Homo sapiens: one gene and its partners. The protein of the gene in region 2 purifies or fractionates together with the protein of the main gene of each other region. This does not show direct contact. Each region holds a gene or a part of one and is shown on either strand. Other genes may lie near its edges.

Evidence for each region. Proteins that work in one complex are often made in the same cells at the same time.
Region 1: the proteins of B3GNT7 (region 2) and ERGIC2 purify together in Homo sapiens (affinity purification with mass spectrometry; one large-scale study listed by BioGRID and IntAct). This does not show direct contact.
Region 3: the proteins of B3GNT7 (region 2) and ENTPD7 purify together in Homo sapiens (affinity purification with mass spectrometry; one large-scale study listed by BioGRID and IntAct). This does not show direct contact.
Region 4: the proteins of B3GNT7 (region 2) and ITIH2 purify together in Homo sapiens (affinity purification with mass spectrometry; one large-scale study listed by BioGRID and IntAct). This does not show direct contact.

Annotation. Positions count from the first base shown.
Region 1 is NC_000012.12:29,346,673-29,350,172, forward strand, and holds part of ERGIC2 (endoplasmic reticulum-Golgi intermediate compartment protein 2), read right to left. Parts: intron 3,397-3,500; coding exon 3,341-3,396; intron 2,506-3,340; coding exon 2,407-2,505; intron 1-2,406. UniProt on the Homo sapiens protein: Possible role in transport between endoplasmic reticulum and Golgi.
Region 2 is NC_000002.12:231,394,503-231,398,509, forward strand, and holds the start of B3GNT7 (UDP-GlcNAc:betaGal beta-1,3-N-acetylglucosaminyltransferase 7), read left to right. Parts: upstream 1-1,207; 5' UTR 1,208-1,301; coding exon 1,302-1,312; intron 1,313-3,228; coding exon 3,229-4,007.
Region 3 is NC_000010.11:99,676,509-99,680,008, reverse strand, and holds part of ENTPD7 (ectonucleoside triphosphate diphosphohydrolase 7), read right to left. Parts: intron 749-3,500; coding exon 543-748; intron 285-542; coding exon 134-284; intron 1-133. UniProt on the Homo sapiens protein: Catalyzes the hydrolysis of nucleoside triphosphates and diphosphates in a calcium- or magnesium-dependent manner. Preferentially hydrolyzes nucleoside 5'-triphosphates, with substrate preference for UTP > GTP > CTP.
Region 4 is NC_000010.11:7,723,816-7,727,315, reverse strand, and holds part of ITIH2 (inter-alpha-trypsin inhibitor heavy chain H2 precursor), read right to left. Parts: intron 367-3,500; coding exon 198-366; intron 1-197. UniProt on the Homo sapiens protein: May act as a carrier of hyaluronan in serum or as a binding protein between hyaluronan and other matrix protein, including those on cell surfaces in tissues to regulate the localization, synthesis and degradation of hyaluronan which are essential to cells undergoing biological processes.

The sequences.
Region 1 (3,500 bases), on a different chromosome or scaffold from region 2:
TCAATGATGGCCTGGGGTTACTGTATAATCAAAAGGATCATTTTTATACAGTCATTAGGCATCTCTAAGTTTGACACAAGTTTTAAATACCAGAATATTACCAATTACTAATTAACTGTAAACAATTACCCATTCACATAATATAAAACATGTTAATTCTCCGGGTCTAGAGAATTCTCTAGAAAAAGTATAATTAGATACACCTATCCATAGATTCAACTAGAGAAGCAAGTAAATGTTTTTATTATCCTTTTGTTAGAGATGAAGCAACTCAAGTACAGGGATGTTAAGAAACAGGCCAAAGTCCAAGTTATTAAGTGGCAGAGTGAGAACTTGAACCCAGGCGGTTCCACTCAAGGGGAATATGGTCTTAAATTTAAGCAGAAAAAATTCTCCCAGATTTAAATAGAAGCTTGCACCCCTTTGTACATAAAAGAGTAAAAGCTTTGACCTTCCTCTCCACTTCTCTCTCACTCATGGAAGGAATGATTCATCTGCAAAAAGTAATCATGTGTGGCTAAGCCACTCAATTAGATAGTATAGGCATTCTCTCTCTTAAACAGCTCTGTCTTCAAGACATACATAACCACCTTCTACCATTAGGAAAGTGAGCCATCCCTGCCATTTGAGAAGTCAGCAGGGTAGGAGGAGTATGGAGTTAGGTTGTCCAGTTTGTGGCAGCACATATAGGTTGTTTTATTTCTACCGGCTTCATTAATAATAAAGCTGCCTGCAATGCTCTCAAAAAGATAATCGCTTAGCTCACTTATTTACTTCACTCAAGTTTTTTTCAAATACCACAGCCTCTTCCATGCCCTTTCTCATATCATAGGCAATCTCCTTTATTTTGTTCAGAGCCGTTTGCCCTAACACTTATTACCTAAAGATCTAATTCCCTATAGGAACGTGCGCTCTATGAAGGGCAGGGACTATGTCTACCTTGTTTATCCAAATCTGTACTGCATTAAAGATGTTAATTGTTAAGTAACTCCTGCAATACTTCTGGAGAACATCAGGAAAGGGATAGCTACCTGACATAGCAGATATGTAATGTTGATTTTTTTCTTTTTGGAAAAAGAGGCTGAAAAAAACATATATTACGAAGGAGAAAAGTATACAAACTGCTTTAAAGCTTTGAAAAACCTGATGATACTCACCTAACGGCATTTCAGAATATGACTCTAAATACCTCTTAGTTTCTCTGAATTTATAAAGAAGTACACTTAAAAACAGCTTTTTGAAAATTGACCTGTTTATATTTAGAAGAGCTTCTGTGCAAAAATTTGTAGTTCATTTTAGCATCTTGAAACAAAGCATCGACCAGTATGTTTCCAAATGAGCATCTCTCAGGTAACATGCAATGCATTTCAGAGGAGAATTAACATATGCTTAGATTACAGATTAGATTATACTGACTAAAGCTTATAAATCTCAAAATGTTTCCATCCACACATTTCTAAATTTAGTACACTCAGGTTTCCTGAAGTGAAACATTCCCACATGAACATAAAATATTCATGAATGTAAATCAGTATTCTAAATTCTAAACATCTTTAATATATGATTATAACACTGCTAAAAAGTAAAGAATATGAATAAATCTGAATAGGATATTAATAAATCTACTTAAATTAATAAAAAACTAAATCCTTAATTACAATTTTACAAAGGATAGAATTCCTACTAGCTGAACAAGCTTCAGAAGTCCTTAAAATGTCCAATAGCTGGAACATGGTATATAATATGACTATTTTAGAAAGAGGCAATCAAAAACCTGCAGAAAACATGAGAACAGACTACTTTCTAAAAAACTAAGAAAATGATCTTTCCATATTTGGATAGACTTGATACTTTAAATGGAGCAGAAGGTTAAATAGAACATTTTAAAAAGGTTATCTGTGCTATAATGTACTCCTTCTATGTTAATAACCAAACCATTCCAGAATAACTAGGTTTCTGGTGTTTGTAAAATTCTCCAGAGAGGTTTCTGAAATGATATATATGCATTTTAAAACTTTGAACCTATATTATACAAAGAAGAAAATTCTTCTCATAATGTTGAACCTTTTTTTCATTCTTATTCTTTGGTGAATACAAAAAAGTGCAGTTATGCCCTGTTAATGTATTAACCTTTCATCTATTTCTACTGTTTAAATTGAACTCCTTCTGCCTTTTAATTCCTTCATCTTTTAACTTGAATTTCTTTATTCTGTTCTATGGCTCATTTTTGAATATTCAAATTTCATCCACTACTAGGACAAATTCTCTTCACATACATCTCAATCACCAACCACTTAAAGATTATCTTTACACAGTAGTTAGGAAGACATTAAAAATGTATTAATATTCAGGTTATAAGCAAAATTTTCTACATGTAAAATCCAACAATAATTATTAAATACTTACGATCTATAGCAATTTTTTCAGTTCCATCTAAAGGATTAATAATTGCTGGAACAAGCTCTCCAAAAGACAAATGATCTATTCTATGAGAAAAATTGTAAGCTAAAAGGCAAAAAATAAAAACAACTTAGCAGAGAAATTATATTATTCAAAATTACTTGGTACAGACTGGTTTACATCCTTATCTATTCTCAAATGAAAATGTTTAAAATCTTCAAGGATAATAATACAGTATTTTAAGCCACAATACTTTGAGAAAAATAAATGTAAATATATGCGAATTAAATGTATAAAATAAATTCTGACAAAATGCTATATCTCAAATTTAATAATTATATACAATTTAACGTCTAGAAAATATTAATATATAATGAAAGCCAAAAATATACATCTTTCCTTTTCCAAATCATCATATAGTTAACAGGACGGTATTGTTAGAATTGGAATGATGGCCATGTGGCCATATAATAAAACTGATCAGATATATTTTTAATACACTATTGCTAAATGTGACCAAACTAATTTTCTGTGGAATCCATTACTTGTTTTGTCCTCTAAAGCAGACTTTAAGAACTTAAGTCTTAAGACAATCATGATACCAAACTAACCTGAATACTTTATACATGTCTATACATCCATATTTCAATTTGCAAATTGAAATAAACTGCAAATATATTATTTTCTTTATCCCTAAAAATTAGCAGAAATGTGTACAAAGTTATAGAAAGTACACTAGGCTTTCCTCCCTAACCTCAGCAACTCAGAGCCATGACCAAATACAAATGCAGATTAAAGTAAATCAATTTAAAAATTTATTTTTTCCTTTGGATGAATATGTTTTCAAAACAGCTCACTTTCAACTACACTATATCTGCACTTTTAAAAATAATATTTTTTCAAGTACATCTTTACTGAAAAAAAGTCAGAATCTGCTTACATTCATGGTTGACAAGTGCTGCCAAATGTGCATGACCACGAGGATGTGGAATTGCCCTGAAAGGAGAAAAAACAATTATTAAAGTAGTACCATTTATATGTATAATTAATTAAAATCAGAAACTGGATCTTCCCTAAGTTATATAATTTTTCTTAGTACA
Region 2 (4,007 bases):
CAGGAAGGGTTCAGAGCCAGCCTTCAGGCCATGCAGGCCTCCTGGATGTGCTTACTAACTCTGGGCTCGCTGTTCTCTGAGCTGGCTGGGAGTTCCCCTCTGCACCCCCGTTTCCTCCCCTGTAAGGTGGGAATAATAGCGTATGTCTCTAGGATTAAGTGAGCCAGTCATGCATGGGCCGAGAACCAGGTTTGGCATATTGTAGCTGCTCAGTGGACGTTAGCTGTTATGATTGGACCACAACGTGCTTCCGTTTCAATTCTGTGGGCCTTTTGGAGGTCCTGCTGGATGCTAAGCACCGAAACCTCAACCCGGAACAAGACCAGAACAACCTGAGCAACAACAGGACCAGCGATGGCTCTCCCTGCTGGAGGATTCTGGAAGTCACCTGGCTGGACCAAGCCCTCTCCGTGTTCTCTGTCAGCCCACTCCCCAGAGCCGCTAGGCCTGATGTGCACAAGCAGACTAATAAAGGCTTGAGGACAAAAAGGGTTTTGAGTGATAAGTGAAAAAAGAAAGGAGATAGGGCTGGGCCAACAGGCCTTCCCTTGGTGGTGGGGAGCCCTCAGAGGTGGGAGGAACCCCAGAGGTGAAGAGAGGGACATGGTGGGGGCACAAAAAAAGCTTCCAGAGCCACAGGCCTGGGCGAGTCCTGACATGGAGCCCAGTCTCATACGGCCTCTTTCCCTAGTGGCTGGCTTTGCTCCTGGCCCTAGGTAGCCCAACAGCTGGGCAAGGGGTCCGTCTGGTCAGGGGAAAGGTGCAGGGGCAGAAGGTAGCAGAGGGAGAAAAGGACACCCTGTCTGCCTCTGGCCCCAAAGACAAGTCCGAATGGGGCCAGAGGGAAATGGCTGGGCCTTGGGGTGCCCCAGGGTCTTGGAGGGGACCGGGTGTTCAGGTTTCGCACAAGTACAGGAGGGACCGGCGACCGCCCTCCCCCCGCCCCGGGAGGCTCCGCCAGGGACAGGCGTCCCCGGGATTGGAGGTGACCCCCGTGGGTTCCGAAGCCCCGCCTCGGCCATGCACTGTCTACTAGGCGCGCTTGGGGAGCCTAGGGGCCGTCTCGGAGAAATGGGGTGGTCCCCGCCAGGCGGCGGCGGGGCGGGCCCTGGGCGCCGAAGGGGTTAAGGCACCTGGGCCACCGCCCCTGCCGGCCCCTCCTCCCGCGGCCGGGAAGAGGAAAGTCGCGGCGGGGGCGCGGCCCGGTCTCCGTCCCCACCCGCCCGCCGTCCCGCCGGCCCGAGCCGTGGCGCCCAGAGCTGCGAGCCGCTCGCCCCTCCGCCGCTCCGGCCCGGGCCGCCATGTCGCTGTGGTGAGTGGGGCTGGGGGCCGTCGGGGGCCTGGGCGGGGGCGTGGGCCCGGGGCTCCCCCTCCTCCGTGGCCACAGACGGGCGCCGGGACTCCCGGGATAGGAGATGCCCCCGCGCGCGCCGCGCCGGCCTCAGTTTCCCGGGGGCGGATGGGCGGGCGGGCGCGGCGGCGGCGGCGGGAGATGTTCGCGGTACGCGGCCCCGGACCCGTGGGGGACGTCGAGGGGTCTCGGGGCGCCGCGCTCAGCTCCCCGGCCCCGCGGCCCTGGACACCGCTCCAGGACCCTGGCGGCTGGGACCCCAGGTCTTGCCGGCAGCTGGGTCCCCTCTCCCTTCCAGACCCCTGAGGGCCCCCTGCGTCCGGGCCACTCTCCTCCTCTCGGGGCTTCCTTCCGCGGGACCTCGGACCGCCGCCCGCCCGGCCCCTCTCCGCCCCTCCCGGGCTTTCCCTACGAATGGAGCGGACCCGGCAGGTGGAGCGCCCGCAGCCCAGGGCCTCGCCGCCTTCCCGGTGCACCCCCCGACCTCCCCCGTCCCGGCCTCGGTGGGCGGCTTCCCTGGAACCCCTAGGGCTGGCAGGGCCGGATCCGGAGCCCTCCGTTTCCTCCCCGGAGAGCTGGACCTTGGGTCACACCCCCCAGCCTGCACCTAAGGTGCCCCTGTCTTCCTCCAACCACATGCCCCAGCAACCTGGGGACCCTATGGGGAAAATGTCGCTCTATGGGGCTCAGCCTGCATTCACCCTGGGGCCTGGACCTGCAACCGGACCAGCCCTCAGGGCAACCCAGGCGTCTCCACGGGCTGCCTGTCTCTCCTGGCACCCTGCTCCTCCCCCTTGGAGGTCAGCGCCATCTCTCTGCTAGGCTGGCCCTGGAAGGCCACTCTGCTGTCCCCAGAGCTCTCAGCCCCCAGGTCTCCACTGGGGAGGGTGGGGCAGGTGTCCTGGCAGCCCCCGGAGGGTGAGATGAAGAGAGGAGGTCCTTCAGGACAGGGGCTCAGGCCCCAGGGCTTGGGACGACCAGCACTCCTGGCAGAGAGCTCTAATTTCTGCTTCCGAAATGGGTGTGGACCGGGGTTGGGGTGGGGGGGTCTCTGGGCAAGAAGGGTCCCTCAAGGGCTGGAGCTGCAAATGTGCCCCCTCCCAGGGAGTAGAGCTGTAGCCTCATGTCTTCTAATGGGGTGTTATGAGCTGGGGATGTTAAGGTAGGGGTGAGGGGCAGTGCCATGCTAGAGGTGCTCACTGCATCCTTGGGCCTCCATCAACCATGAGGGCTGCTCTTTGTTGGGTGAGACAGACTGGAGAAGGGGGAGGAGGGCCAGTCTTCCTCAGGTCCCAAGCTCGAGCCACTCTCCAATGTGCCCCACATGTGATGGAGCTCCCGGGCGGCACAGAGGATCAGAGGGTGCCCTCTCAATGACTCTGGCTCTGAGTCACCTAATGATACCGATACCTACTGCTGTGGGTAGGTACACCGCAGGGAAATGAAAGGCATTGGGGTTCCAGGCGTGGGGAACAGGGCAGAGGTTTCCACCTGAGGCCCTCCTGTTAAGGTGACAGCATTCCCCTAACTGTGCACCCGCTGCCTGGTACTTTATATAGCACTCCAATCCTGTGTTTTAGCCCCATTTGGGGGAAGAAGAAATCGTGGCTCAGAGTGGTTGTAAACCACTCATTCAGCTTGTAAGCGTCAGGGCCTGATTCCACAGTGCTCCTTGAGGAGAGGGCAGGGTGGGAGAAAGAAAGGGCAGGGTGGGAGAGGAAGCGGGACCCTACCCTGACAGCTTAGGGACTCCGGGACTGAGCCTGTGCCCAGGTCCACTTGCCCGTCTGGGACCACCCAGCCTCCCAAGGGGGGCGCCAGGAGAGCCCTGGGCTCATCTTTTCTCTCTCCTCTGTACTGTCCGCTCTCCCCCACAGGAAGAAAACCGTCTACCGGAGTCTGTGCCTGGCCCTGGCCCTGCTCGTGGCCGTGACGGTGTTCCAACGCAGTCTCACCCCTGGTCAGTTTCTGCAGGAGCCTCCGCCACCCACCCTGGAGCCACAGAAGGCCCAGAAGCCAAATGGACAGCTGGTGAACCCCAACAACTTCTGGAAGAACCCGAAAGATGTGGCTGCGCCCACGCCCATGGCCTCTCAGGGGCCCCAGGCCTGGGACGTGACCACCACTAACTGCTCAGCCAATATCAACTTGACCCACCAGCCCTGGTTCCAGGTCCTGGAGCCGCAGTTCCGGCAGTTTCTCTTCTACCGCCACTGCCGCTACTTCCCCATGCTGCTGAACCACCCGGAGAAGTGCAGGGGCGATGTCTACCTGCTGGTGGTTGTCAAGTCGGTCATCACGCAGCACGACCGCCGCGAGGCCATCCGCCAGACCTGGGGCCGCGAGCGGCAGTCCGCGGGTGGGGGCCGAGGCGCCGTGCGCACCCTCTTCCTGCTGGGCACGGCCTCCAAGCAGGAGGAGCGCACGCACTACCAGCAGCTGCTGGCCTACGAAGACCGCCTCTACGGCGACATCCTGCAGTGGGGCTTTCTCGACACCTTCTTCAACCTGACCCTCAAGGAGATCCACTTCCTCAAGTGGCTGGACATCTACTGCCCCCACGTCCCCTTCATTTTCAAAGGCGACGATGACGTCTTCGTCAACCCCACCAACCTGCTAGAATTTCTGGCTGACCGGCAGCCACAGGAAAACCTGT
Region 3 (3,500 bases), on a different chromosome or scaffold from region 2:
GTTGGGAATGAATGATTGTGTCATAATTGGGTTTAGGGGTATAGACCAGGGAACCACAGAGGACAGTGCATGAAACTGGCCTTTCATCTCTTGTGCCACCGTTTTCCTGTGTTTCCTGTACCCTGCATCTCACCTCTCAGGGAGAAGCCTCATGCCTGCTGTGCAGAGGATGTAAAGAGGGGTCTCCTTGTGCTTCTTCACAGGCACATGAGCAGCAGCAAAGCTCAGCAGAGGACGAAGGTAATCACTGGCATGTTCTGGAGTGTCTGCCATTGCAGAGATTCCTTAAGTTAAAACAAACAAACAGACAAAACTTTCTTTAAAAAGCGGCTCACATAAGACTCAGGAAACTGATACCCTATAAAGTTCTCCTCAAGGTCCTAAACATTTATTTATTTGAGAGGTAGGGGGTGACAATGAAAGAGATATCCCTCCCATTACCCAGACTCTCAAGAAGAAAGGGGTAGCTTGCTTTCTGCTTCTTTTGTCTCCTCTTTCATGCCTTAAAAGAGACTGACAACAAAATATATTCTGATTAGTACCTGGCTTGATTTTTTTAACCACTGGTTGGCTGTTGCGGTCTCTCATCTGTTTGATGTCCAGCAAGTCATGGGGGTTCCCATTATGTCTTGGCCAGAAATAAACAAAAATCCGGGAACCACTGCTGCCACAGTCAACAACAAGTCCATAATTCAGATTTGGGTCTTCAGTGTCAGTAGCTTCAAGCTCCCCTACTCGAGCCAAATACCTAAGTCAGGCAAAAAGAGAAATCAGTGCTAAGCAGTCAGGTCCATGAAAGGCGCCCTCACTTACTTCATTTGTTCATGAATCTTCATTAAGTGCCTACATGTGCTAAGCACATGGGACTACCAGTCCTAACCAATGAGTGAAGCAATATTGACAGATTTACTGATGTGCTTGAGACAATAGCTGGTTCACTTGCCTAGAAGCCACTGAAATTAGATGACTAAAAGATGTCCCCACGTGTGGGGGCAGCTCTGAAACTGGCTAAGGTAGCAATCTTTTTTCAAGCATTAGAGCTTGTAGCCCTGAATAAATAATTGGTTTTTTGTTATATGCTATTAAGTTTTGGGGTAGCTTGTTAACGCACACTAGATAACTGAGACAATCTTAATCACTTCTTTTCTATCTTTCTGTATAGATGCATCCAGAATATTGTGGAATGATTTCTCATTTAATGAGTTTCTGGGAGGTGATTTTTTTTTTTTTTTGAGACGGAGTCTTATTCTGTCACCCAGACTGGAGCGCAGTGGCACGATCTCAGCTCACTGCAACCTCTGCCTCCCAAATTCAACCAATTCTCCTGCCTCAGCCTCCCAAAGTGCTGGGATTACAGGCATGAGCCACTGCACCTCGCCTGGGTGGTGATATTTTTGATTGGGCTTTTTGGTTTTGCTTTTTGTTTTGTATTTATATTGCTAGAATTGCATTAAAAATGTAATTCATAAAAACAATAATTATTCTTTTCTACAATATTTTATATATATACATATATCTTTTTTTTTCTTTTTTCTTTTTTTGAGATGGAGTCTCGCTCTGTCTCCTAGGCTAGAGTGCAGTGGCATGATCTCAGCTCACTGCACGCTTCGCCTCCCAGGTTCATGCCATTCTCCTGCCTCAGCCTCCCAAGTAGCTGGGACTACAGGCACCCGCCACCACGCCTGGCTAATTTTTTGTATTTTTAGTAGAGACGGGGTTTCACCGTGTTAGCCAGGATGGTCTCGATCTCCTGACCTCGTGATCCGCCTGCCTCAGCCTCCCAAAGTGCTGGGATTACAGACGTGAGCCACCGCGCCTGGCCTAAATATTTTATAAACATAAAAAGAATGATAATAAAATATGTATAGGGTATAAAGAATAACAATAAAACAAATGCCTGTGTACCTACCACCAAGTTTAAAAAATAAATTATATTTTTAAAAAATAATAATAATAATTCTTGGCCCCTAGGACATTAGTATTTTGTGTTGGAATTTTTTCAGATTCTCATTCCAAGATATCTGGCTGGCTGACATCAGGAAGATGAAACAAGTAAAGGTGTTCCATGAAACATAGCAAGGTTTGAATCTCAGCTCTATTGCTTTCTATGCTGTGTGACCTTAGGCAAGTTAATAAACTTCTCTCAGACTGTTTCCTCATCTGTAAAACAAGGAGAGTGAAGGGTATCTACACTCACAGAGATCATACACATAGCAGAACTGTGCTGCCGCTGTTAACAGAATAATCATTGGGAAAGTAAATAGTAGAAGACTCTGAGGAAAAAGGCTTAAAAGTTCAGAAAATAAAGAAGACTAAGAGTTGATTAAAATACTTCTGAGCACTTGGCTGGGCGCAGTGGCTCACGCCTGTTATGCCAGCACTTTGGGAGGCTGAGGTGGGCAGATCACCTGAGATCAGGAATTCGAGACCAGCCTGGCCAACATGGTGAAACCCCATTTCTACTAAAAATACAAAAATTAGCCAGGCATGGTGGTGGGAGCCTGTAATCCCAGCTACTCAGGAGGCTGAGGCAGGAGAATCGCTTGAACCTGGGAGGCGGAGGTTTCGGTGAGCTGAGATCGTGCCACTGCACTCTAGCCTGGGTGACAGAGCGAGACTCCATCTCAAAAAAAAAAAAAAAAAAAAAAAGCTATCTGCCCTGCTCATCCAACATTGTCTTTAAAGCCAACTCCTAGATCTCCAAGGCTCTTACACAGAACCCCTCAGAACCAGCTTTTGTGATGTCTGAAGCTAACAGAATTTGGAAAGCCTTCTTTTAAAAACAAGATTCAGCATTACAAATAGAAAAAAAGCCCATGTAAGTGAGGGGCTTTAAGGTATAGGGATCATTAGCTTCACAATAAAACCACCCCCAATCAGAACAACAAACCACGCATCACGCTCCTGAAACCAATCTAGCCAGTGTTTATTGGTGATTTCACATCGTTAGACAAAACCACACTATTCCTTATTTGGGCAGAAAAGCAAACTTGATAAAAAGAAGTGCATGTAGAAATAATTCTGAAATAAAAAAGTAGAGTACCTTTCCTATATTACAATGCAAAATGCATTTTTTTAAAAAAGAGAACAGGGAACTGAGCTTCAATATAATGTAAATTATTACTGAGAGTAGGGGTAGGTAGAACTTTTTTTCTGGATCTGAAATGGTAGTGAGTTGAGGGAAATGAAGCAGATGGTAAAAATCTGTTACATAACAGAAAGTTTCTAATGCTAAAGATTCCATTTCACCACATATCTTCCCATAAATCAAATCACTGGGCTGAACTGGGCTAGAATCCACCAATCAACTAGCAACAGCTCACTTCTATCATATGAGAGCTGGGCAAAAGTCTGGGTTCAAGTCACAGAACTCTTGCAAATACTGACCTCACAAAAGGCCAAAGATAAAAAAGAAATAGGCAAGATAATCCACCCCCATTCCAAAGTGACTTTTCATTTCCAATCATAGCAATCTTTCTATTTCACATGCTTCACAGAAT
Region 4 (3,500 bases), on a different chromosome or scaffold from region 2:
AAAGCTTATGTGGGCTGTATTACAAATTCTACTTTCACTACAAACTTAGCATTCATCCATTACCAATAAATGTATTATTTAAGATAGGCCCTCGAATGCTGGGGAAAGACCACTGTGATGGGAATAATGCTTCTTAAGTGAATCATGATTTGAACCCAGAGGAAGTGTCTCCTTGGGATTTAGCCCAACACACTCACCTCCACTGGGCTGGATTTTCTCAATATACCTCTTGGCATCTGCAACCTGTGTTTTTGTAGCTGAAATTAAATCATTTCTCCAAGTTCGAATGTTCTGGTTGAAATCAATCACAGAGAAATGGTCTTCTGCTCTGAGGTCATCCAATATGGTCTTCATTGCTTCCACAGTCTATTTCAATAGAGAATAAAGACAGGTCCCATTACAGAAAATCTGAGCCTCAGAGGAACTAGGAAGACCAATCATTGATCCTGGTCATCTTTCAAGTTCTTCTCAAGCTAAACTTCTTCCAGAAAACCTCTTGAGCCCACCTCAGTCAATGCAGACCTGCCCCTTATTTATTCTGGGCATGTACTGTTGGCTTTTTGATAATTTTACTATCTATTTTGCTATGCACAACCAGTTTGACTAGTCTTTATGTTAAGGATCACAAACTTCGAGTGCCACCTTTATGATGCCTGAAAATAAAATACATTTCTCAAGTCCATCTACTCACCCAGTCTCTTAAACTATTTCCTCATCTTTCTCTTTAAACCACCACCATCACCCTCTTTCTCTAGCTTACGTGTGATGATTTTGATTCCAACTCCACTGAGAAACTGCAGCAGACAGAAGAACATTCCCACAGACTCCCACTACCATAAAATCCCAACCATCAATATTTGTACCCATACATTTTTCTTTCCTACCTGATAATAAAGAACAACTAGCAGTATTTCTACCTAATGCAAACCCATCTATTCATGAACTATTTCATTCCCTCTCTTTGACTAAAGATCATGGCTCCAGCAATTGTCCTTTGCCTCTTCAATTTCCCTATTCTATTGGTACATTTCCATCAACAAAAACATGTTATTTCTCACCCTTCTACAAACCTCATGTGCATCCACTTTCTTCATTTCTCAGCTTTCTTCTGCAATAAAATTCCTTGAGGAATTGTCTAAACACACTGTCTCCAAATCTTCTCTTCCTATTCTCTCATAAGCCCAATCCTTTCGGGTTTTCATCCCTGTCACTCTACTGAAACTGCCCTTGTCAAGGTCACCAATGATGCTAATGTCACTAAATCCAAAGGTCCATCTTCATTTCTCATGCACCGGCAAGTGCTCTCATCTCCCTCCTGAACACAAATTCCTCAATTGTCTTCCAGGGCCTCATTCTCTCTTGATTTTTCTCCCCCACTTACTAATTGTTTTTATTAGTCTCTATCACCAATTATCCTCTTCTTCCCAAATTCCCAATATTGGAATGCTCTGTTGTCTGATCTTGGCTCCCTTGTCCATCTACTCCTCGGCATTCTCACCTAGTCCCAATGCTGACAGTACCTTCTATATGCTGGGGAGTCCTAACTGTGTGTCTCCACATCTCACTTTTGAACACCACGCTTCCATGGCCAACGTGGGTACTTAATAGAAATCTCAGACTTTGCATCCAAAACCAAACTGGGACATTCCCTGCAATGTCTGATTACATTTCTGTCTTTGTCAACTCATGGATGGCCACTTCATCCTTCTAGTCACTCAGGCTAAGTCCTGGGGCATCTTTCACTTCTCTTTTCTTCCCTTGCCTCACAGCTAGCCCTTCAGGATATACTGTTTACTCTACCTTCAAAACAGATTCCAGAATCCAGCTCTGATCATGACTGCACAGGTGTTCCATGAGCCACCTTGCCTCTCACTTCTCAGATCTCATCTCCCACTGCCCCTCTCTACTGGCATCTCTCTCTGTTCTTTGCACACTTTCGACTTAGAACTGTTGCATGAGCTGTTCATTGCATTTAATTCCCTTAGATATCTGCACAACTCTCCCTTCACCTTCTCAGGGTCTCCTCAGAGGTCTTCTCCAGGAAACCACCTATTTAGATGACAAGCCTATTTAAAATTGCATACCCCTGCAATTGCCACTCTTGGTTTTTAACATATGCTTCTTTTATTTTTTAAAAAAACTTTTATCAAAATGCTGCCATTGAACGTACTTGTACATTTGTACTTGCATGTGTATTGTTTATTCTCTGTCCCCTATCCCTCAGATGTAAGTTTCATAAGCACACAGAGGGTAGGCATCCGTTTTTTTTCTGTTTTTTGTTTGGTTTCTGTTTTTATGCTTTGGGTCTGTTTTGCTCATAGATGAACTAAGTGTATGACACATAGTAGGTGCTTCGTAAATATTTGTTAAATGAATGAGTGATGGAAGGAAGGAAGCAGTGAATAAACTGTTGTATTAGAGCAATGTTTCTCAACCAGAGGCAATTATTCCCCCCAGCGGACATTTGGCAATGTCTGACGTTATATTTGATTGTTATGATGCAGGGGAGGTTGTGCTACCAAAATTTAGCAAATAGACCATAGACCATGCTGCTAAGTATCCTGCAATGCACCAGACAGCCCTCCTACAACAAGGAATGACCCCATCCAAAATATCAATAGTCCCACTGCTGAGAAACCCTGCCTGGGAGTACAGACCCAGGCAGGCAGGGTCTGTGAAAGACAGGGTCTTCTTTTTCCTCTTCTTCGTCTTCGTCTTCTTCCTCTTCTTTTTTTTTTTTTTTTTGAGATGGAGTTTCGCTCTTGTTGCCCAGGCTGGAGTGCAATGGCGCGATCTCTGCTCGCTGCAACTCCCGCTTCCTGGGTTCAAGCAATTCTCCTGCCTCAGCCTCCCGAGTAGCTGGGATTACAGGCATGCACCACCACGCCTGGCTAATTTTGTATTTTTAGTAGAGACAGGGTTTCTCCATGTTGGTCAGGCTGGTCTCAAACTCCCAACCTCAGGTGATCCACCTGCCTTGGCCTCCCAAAGTACTGGGATTACAGGCGTGAGCCACTGTGCCTGGCTGACAGGGACTTCTTTTAGGTTCCTTACAGATCTTAGGGTAGTAGTGAACTCTTGGGTGGTCAAAAATAGTTGCCCTATGACTGGTTAGTTGGTTGTTCAACTTGGTTGAATGGATGGATGGATTGATGGGTAAGTTAAATCATTTCCTTGTTTGGTCTTTAGTATTGCATCTGTACATCTCACTTATCACTAAGTAAGCCTATATTGAGCTCTGAGCTGGAAAACATAAGATGGATAGCTGCTCTCAAGCAATTACCATATAATTAGAAATAATATGTATATATTGAATCAATAGTCATATGTGGACAATGACAAGATATTATAATAAAACATGTGGAAGAGCAAAAAGAATGTGACTGATCCTTGAAAGAAGAGGTTATATAGAGATTCTGTTTTTCAAAGAGGTGAGTTTTGAGACAGTTTTTCAAGGAAATATTGGATAGAGAGTGGAAAAGAGAAAGAGAAGGAAGAGG